3 separate regions of the Homo sapiens genome follow, and all the other regions are linked to region 2. The links come from fine-mapping of genetic effects on gene expression. A gene starts in region 2. Each other region holds a variant in brackets. All regions are shown on one strand. Distances are between the middles of the regions. Region 1 overlaps PXDNL (peroxidasin like). Region 2 holds the start of PXDNL (peroxidasin like). Region 3 overlaps PXDNL (peroxidasin like).

What was found. PIP is the estimated chance that this variant, and not a neighbour inherited with it, causes the effect. A credible set is the group of variants that fine-mapping cannot tell apart.
Region 1: its variant is the best candidate, but not a certain one, in a credible set for the expression of PXDNL in left ventricle (GTEx, PIP 0.80).
Region 3: its variant is the best candidate, but not a certain one, in a credible set for the expression of PXDNL in atrial appendage (GTEx, PIP 0.72).

What each region holds. Positions count from the first base shown.
Region 1 is chr8:51,410,913-51,413,412 of GRCh38, forward strand. It overlaps PXDNL (peroxidasin like), which reads right to left. Exons shown (of 23, transcript NM_144651.5): 15 at 2,238-2,346; 16 at 338-495. Among named protein-coding and RNA genes, the nearest start is that of PXDNL, 400 kb to the right of the region's middle. The variant C/T (reference allele first, on the strand shown) is at 1,003.
Region 2 is chr8:51,807,923-51,810,714 of GRCh38, forward strand. It overlaps PXDNL (peroxidasin like), which reads right to left and starts at 1,523. Exons shown (of 23, transcript NM_144651.5): 1 at 1,259-1,523. The coding sequence starts at 1,422. RefSeq lists enhancers at 896-1,418, 1,419-1,940.
Region 3 is chr8:51,356,544-51,359,043 of GRCh38, forward strand. The region is part of intron 19 of PXDNL (peroxidasin like); the gene reads right to left. Among named protein-coding and RNA genes, the nearest start is that of PXDNL, 450 kb to the right of the region's middle. The variant T/C (reference allele first, on the strand shown) is at 1,265.

The DNA of each region.
Region 1 (2,500 bases), 400 kb before region 2:
TGGAAGAATATCCCCCTGGTAATAAAGCATTTCTCTATAAGACACAATAATATCTTTTACATTTGAAACACAAGTTCACTTAATGTAGGTTCCCTAGATTTGTTCTCTATACATATAACTTAAAAGTTGAGACAAGTTTGAATATATATTTATCATCCTTACTTTGGAATTACAGTTCCTATGAGAAACATCTGCATTTATTTGGTAAAAGTAGTGAGTAAATTAATTTCTAAATCCCATGATATTCTGGAGATTAAAAGTTCAGTGTCCTTTGCTAAGGTGGTGGTCAGTTTTTCTGTGGGCAGTAGGCTGAGAATAAAATGGCTTTGTGGCTGACCTTTGCCTTCCAAGTCCACAGTGAGCCCCTGCTTCACACGTTCCCGTATCAGCTGCAGCGTGTGCTCAAAAATCTCCCCTGCTCTTGCCATTTCCACAATCAGTGGGTCACGCGGGTAATGAAATTGAGCCAGCAGGTCACTGGAGGTGTGAGGTTTTCTGCAAATGACAAAACACATGATTCTTTACAAGGCAAAACAGCAGAGTCCATGAAGCTTGCAAATACTGTGCATTTAAAAAGGCATTTCCCAAACATTCGAGAAGAATGAAAGCTCCACCACTACAATAGAGGCTCTACAGAGGAGCTGTGGGTTCTTTTCCTATTTTGCTAACAACTTATTCCAAATGTTAGTCCCAGTGCTGAACTCAAAAATATATATTTTTAATGAATGGATGATTTAAACAATAGTTTTAGGAAACAACATCTATGGTGGGGTTCTAAACTGGGGGGGTCGGTTGATGAATGGATTATAGGAGGCTCAGTAAACCTTCTGAAGTACTATGCAATACTCTCGGTCTGCAGGACTTGGCATTTTGTGTCTTCTCTTTCCCTGAGTGTAATCTCCTAGAAATTCCTCCTTGCCTTTAGAATCCTCCTCAGGCCTCACTCTCCCTGTAGAGTTTCACTGAGAGCTCTGACAAGCTATCACTCCATCTTCTCTAGTA[C/T]TCCTGTATCCTTAAATATGTGTCTTATATACTCAGTAAAATGTACTTGAATTGCTGACATATTGTCTCCTCTGCTAAAGAAAGAACTAGGTTGCTGATGAGATGTTGACCTATTATTTATCTTGTATCCCAAATACCAAGCCCACTGACCAGCACATAATAGCAGTTTATGCACATTTGTAGAACTGAACCAAATATGTTAAAAAGAAATTTAAAAGCACTGAGAATGTGAAGCAAACTGTTTTAGAGACTTTGATCAACTGAGGCACATCTCATCCTCTATGTCTTGAATCTTAACTACTTGAGGTCACAGAATAATAATAATGATGCTAATAGTTCACTTTGGTTAAGCACTTTCTATTCTCCAGGCACTGTTGAAGCACTTTTTACATATTATCTTATTTTTTCTTCCTAGCAAGCACATCCATGAAGTAGATCCTACTGTTATCCCAACTTTAGAGAGCAAGGAGCCTGAGGTACAAAGATGTTAAGTCACTTGCTCAAGGTCACCCAGACAGAAAGTAATGAAGTGAGGAATCAGGAAGAGAATATAAATCTAAATCGGCTGCGTGGTTCTAGAACACACATGCATGATCACAAAGCCATTCTATTTATGGATGTGCAGGAAGCCAGAAGAGACTCAATTTGGGATTTTACGATGTCCCTTTTTGACCACTAACTGCAAATACTGAATATATACTTTATCCGATTATGATGAAATCAACAATCATTTTTTTGTTAATGCATCCTGATGTTACAAACACAGAGAAGTTAATGGGATTGGAAGGTTTCACTAGTCCATGAACATTCCAATTCAAATTAAAATAATGTAAAATGCCAAATATCCTAAACATAATGTTTGTCGTAGGCTCCCAGTTTATACCAAGGTGTGTTCAACTTGATAATCATTCTCAATTCACACATTGCAGGAGCACTGCATCTGACACTGTTTGGTGGATGCTGAGGTAACCCAGCCCATTGCCTAGTGTCTATTGTCAGCCTGTATAGCATGGACCTTTGGCATAAATTAATGCCATTTAGATTCTATGGGGAAGAAGTTTCCCCTTTTTTAGGGTGAACTGATAATGATGGCTAGCCCAGATGGGGATGCATACACAAGGACTAAAGAAAGCACTCTATTGCATATGCACTATAATGTGACTTATGGAGATGATAAAAACTAAGTAGAACAGAAATGAAAACAAGGTTTCAATCTGTGTAAAATAAATTCTTACTGTGAAAACAAATGTCTTCGTGTGGAGTTAATTGCACTGTCAACTCTCTGTACAGCATCAAGAATGGAAGATTCAACAAAGTCATCGCCAGCTTGTCTACCCTGTATAGCTTTGAAAATCAATTCCATGATTAAAAATATCAAACAGACCTTGAAGTTAGGCATGATATTATATGAATGGCATTACATTTTTAAATGTAATGCCATTACATTTAAAACCTCTAAGACAATGAAAATGTTATACAATATCTACATGATAATGCC
Region 2 (2,792 bases):
CTTGCAGAACTGTGCTGTCCACATAGCAATAAGCAGTGCTCCCAAGTTCAAGAATCCTTTCAGTTATTACAGTAAGACGTATTTTGATATCTGCATGCATATAAAATTAATGAAATGCTTTATAGAAATGAAAATCTATGGATAATATGTCATTTTCTATGTAAATACCATCAAATTGGACTTTTTATTACCAAGTCCTCATTTCACGATTATGACTGACAAATGTGTGGCAATGATCCTCTTAAACATTTATATCTCAAAATTCCAGGAATTTTAAGCTATTTCCCTCTGCCCAAGAATGGACTTGAAACACTGCAAGCAGTTTTGTCTTCCATGAACATGACACAACCCACAAAATATTTATTATAGAGCAGGAAACCTCTTTAGTCTGCATCTTTCAGCATTTTTCCTTTTCTTCTTTTATTTTTTCTTAAATTTTTGAATTTGTCGTCTTTTTCTTTCTTTAAAAATAGACCCTAGAAACAGATCCTTTTCTTCTTTTGTGGTGATTTGCCCTTCTAATTATCTAATTATGACTTAATTTAATCTAAATAAATCTAAATGTTTGGGTTTATTATCTGAATATTAAAGATGAGAAGATAGGATTTGAACTCAGACCTGTTTGACTTCCAAATTCTGGTTTGCCCTACTATCCCGTAATGCCTCCTAGATGCCGATTAGTCTAAGCGGCTGCTCCACAAGGCTTTTAAGCATTCAAGAACTCTACTGGACCATTTGAGGGTCTGTTCTGGAGACAGACAGTGCTTCAAGTGCTGAGGGCTCAGGACTTCACCCTCCCAGGAGGTACACACAGTACAAAGCCTAACAATTTGTCAGCACATAATCAATTGAAACCACACTCTAAAGTTAAATTAGTTCCTTCCAAATGGGGCAGACACGTGCTGACCAATTAAGAGGCCCAAAGACTTGGGAGTAGAGGATGAATAGGAATAAATTGAGAAAGTATGCAGGAAAATTATTGAAGGAAGAATGAAGACGAGAATTCTCAATGCTAAGTTCTGGAAGATGCTGGAAGAGAACTGAATCCAAAACAAATATATTTATGTCAACTCATCATTGCTTACATTTTCTAGTCTAACAGAGCAGAACCATGAAATTGTTTGAAAAGTGAAAAGCCTCTTCTAAGTATACAAGCAGGGAGAGCATTAGGAATCGTAAATTAAAAGGACACAGGTCCTAGCAGAGAAGCAATGAAGCATTGGGGAAGAGGGTTTCTGGGGAATTTATGTGAACTTACAGAACTGTGGTCTGCTGTGGTACCTGAGGAATGTGGTCCAGCATCAAGTGCATGCAGCGGACGGTGCTCTTAAAGCAAAGGCACCGGCTGGGGCAGGGCAACCCTGGCAGGCACCACCCGGCCAGGAGAAAGAGAGTGGTCCAGCAGAACAGTCTGGGCTCCATCGCTCCATTCGCTGCTGGCCACGCGAAGAAGCAGCCGGAGGGAGAGCAGCAGCTGCAGCTGCAGCAGCAACCGCAGTGGTGGTGATGGTGGCTGCTGGACTGAGCCAAGTTTGGGAGCCGTGGTGGAAAGCAGCTCCCAGGGAAAGGACACCCCTCTGACCAATCCAGGAGGAGGGATATCACATTACAGGGCTGAGGGCACAAGCAGCTCTAGGAAGCACTAGACTCCCAGAGGCGAGGACGAGAAGCTTTTCAATGCAAAAGCCTCTTTCTAAAACACCGTGTTTTAGGCAGCATAATGCAAACAAACTTTTCCAAAATTACTTCCACTGCGCATTTGATGAAAAACCCGACCTCTTAGCCTCCAGCTGTCCTCTTGAAGCCCAAGTTGATTAAGAATGTATTGAAACAATGCAGAACAGCTTTTCTTCTTTTTTATCTGGTAACATTACCAAACCCTAAAGGGCAGGCAGAGTTCTAATTCGTTCATCTAGGTGCACATATTCTTTCTTTATTCCAAACTATGCTCTTTAATAAAAATTGTTTCATTTCCTTCTATATATTCTGCTGCTGAAACCCAACACATTTCACTCATGTAAGACTCAAACGGGCTACTTCTGATTTCTTCTTTTAACGTTTAAATTTATATGCTTAAAACCATGAACTCACATACCTCCTTCAAGAGGATACAACTGATGGACAAACCTAAGTATGTATATGTAAAGTCAAACAGATGCAAGCTCCCTCAGGACACACTGGCAGCAGTGGTCTTGCTGGTTGCAGACTTTTCATCAGCAGTTTGAACTGGCCATCTTTCCCTGAAGTGAGCAGCACCTCGTTGAGGACGTGTCTGAAAACTTAATAAATATGAAAACATCTACTTTTTGGTCATTCTGTAAGCAGGTATTTTTAAACAGATTTTTGGCTTTATCTTTAAAGACTAACATTTTCAAACAAAAATGTTTTAAATCCATAAAAGTAATAGAAAACAAATTAAAACTTGCATGGTCAATCCCAGATGATCAGACTAGTAGACCAATCTTAAGAGGAAAATAAGTTCATCCTTGTCTCTGCAGAAATGTTTCAGTCCCTTTACATTCTACTGTAGGCGAATACTGCCCTCTTTTGGCAAAATGTTCATATCTAAATATGTGATTTTGGGGAGATTAAAATGTAAAAAGATCTAAAAAACAAAACTAATCTCCATGAACAAGAATGATTTATTTTAAACTTTACATTTGACATTGTTCACATGACTTTTATTGTCCAAGTATACCAATAAAGCCAAAAAACGAAATTTATTCCTTTAAATCCCAACAATCACTATGCTCTTGGCAGTGCCTGTGATTTGGAGGACATAGACAAGACCT
Region 3 (2,500 bases), 450 kb before region 2:
AAAGAACCTAGTAATTTAATGTGAAATGTTCTGTAAAGTATGTTAAGTGATATAAAATATTAAATCTCAAAGAAAATTTGAAAATTTTTGCTTTATCTTTTATGCTGGTAAAATAAGATTCTTGGCTTTCTCGTTATAGTCATTCATTTATCAATCTTGGTTACTGTGATCTTTTGATAACTACAAATTTAGCATTTGTCTCATGAGGTTTCCCTTTTCCCTTTTCCTTAAAAGAAAATCCAATCAAACAACATTTTGAACACTTGCTGCTTATCACTTCACCAGCTACGCCTCTGTCGGAGCTCTCTTGGTTCCTTATCTTTTCTTAATATTTTCAGTGGGCACTTACTATTCCCTAGGCCTTACCTACAGCACTGAATTATTATGTTTCTGCTGGCTAAAAGAACAAAAACTCCAATCAAGCAGCTGATTCATCTGATAATTATCCCCCAAACCACCCTACTGTTTATATAAGCTCTGAGTCAACTTGTAAGTTGTTTTGACATAATTTGGACACTGTCAATGGAATAGCATTTTCTCAAGTACCCAGAAAAACAAAAACCCCTCCTCATGGACAACAAGCAACATAATCTTTGGCCAGAATATCCCATTATTTGAATCAGAATATAGTCTCATTATCCTTACCAGTATTAATCCTTCCAGAGTGCTGTATTAATGGACTAAGTTATAAGTATACTGGTTTTCTCCTATGTATCTTGTACCAAAGACATCCATCTACCTGAGGCAAGAGTACACACAGAAGCAGCACAGAACTCCTGGACTGCCTCGCCTCTGCCATGTTTCCACATTCTCTGGTACTACTGATGGCAGTTCCTGTGCAAATCACAGCATTCCCAGAATGACTTCCAGTAAAATGCTGGGTGGCCCAAAGATAAGTAATTATACAGAGAATATCAAGAAGTGGTCCCTGAAGGAGGTCATCTAAGCAGACAGTATCTGATGTGGCTTCTTCAGATGCATTTGCACATATTTTTTCATACATATTTAGATGCAACTTGCTCATATTGACAAAATCAGAGTCAGTATACACACACAATAGAGAGTATAAATCTATGTGTCAAAATAACATGGGCAGAGAAATTAACCCACAAGGTAAAAGAAAGAAGTTGGCAACACCAGAGTGGAACAAATAGGATGCCTAGGGAAGAAAGGATCCCTGACTTTTTTTGGAGATTAACCACATGATTTTTATTTTTTTCCTAATGGAGGGCTTGTAGGTTTGTTTTTGAGTAGGTAAGAAATA[T/C]AACAGATTGGACAATTCTGTCAATATCCACAACATACCTTTAAAGCTATGCCTACTTCTGGGCATCACACTTTAATAAAGACCTTGATGAATTATAATGTTCTGAAAGAAAAACTGATAAGTAAAATCAGAATAATGAAGCAACTCTAAATCATGCAGCATGAAGAAACTAGGGAGTCTGGGATGGAAGGTGTCTGTTTAGTGCAGAAGAAAAGATTCATTATAAAAAAGAAAGCCATCTTCACAGGATAAACATGATGTCACACCAAAGGAGAATTAGAATTATCCCACGTTTCTCCACAAGGAGAAAAATGACCAAATAGAAACCTATTATGATAAGTTTCATCTTAGTATAAGATTAAAAATGAAACCTAATGAATTATCTTTAAATGAAATAGATTCTCAGATGATGTGGGCTCAGAGCCCATGGGATTTCATCTTCTCTCTTCCCAGGCTAAAAGACAGGAGGGGGCTAGCTGAAACAGTAAACAGGTAGTACCAGTTTTGCTTTTTACTTACGATAATCCTGAGGATCCTTCTAAGAGCTTTTTCGTCTTCAAAGAAATCAGTGTTTTAGAACTGAATTCCAGGTCACCCCTTGGTTTCAGATCAAAACTGGTTTTCTCAGACCTTGTGTCGGTACATTCCTGGCCCCCATAATAGTGTGTAAAAAAATGATTAAACAGGGTCTTCTGTGACCTTGAAAAACCAAATATGCTGATTAATGCTGTCAGACAGGAAAGCTCACATGCCTGTGCTCTCCCTGAAGAGCTCAGGCCTTGATCAGCATGTACCTCAACCAAAGACAAGAGGAATGGTCTCGCCTGGCCCCAGCATGAGGTCCTCATCACAGGACGCTCATTGCAGCACGCGGACAATGAGCTCACAGGGATTTGGGAGCACGGTGCCCTGAAGATGAGCACCCCAAAGATGGGCCTTCTTCCCCTCCCCCACAACCCCAGGGGACAGGCCTCCCCTGGGCAAGTGGCATAGGAATATAGAGGCCACAGTGTGCTTGAGAGGACAGGGGAACCCTGGGGAAAAATGCAGCACACAATCCTCCTAAAGGCTGCAGGCCTGGGGGAACCACGCCCAGCCCTGCTCAACTGAGGACTCAGAGCAGCTTACCTCTGAAAGGGCTTCATGTTCAGATTTCTGGCCGAGAGCTTCTGCCCTCAGAGTGTGCAGTGTGTCTCCACTTCTCAGAAAGCCAAGAATGAACTGAATAAGTGGGTT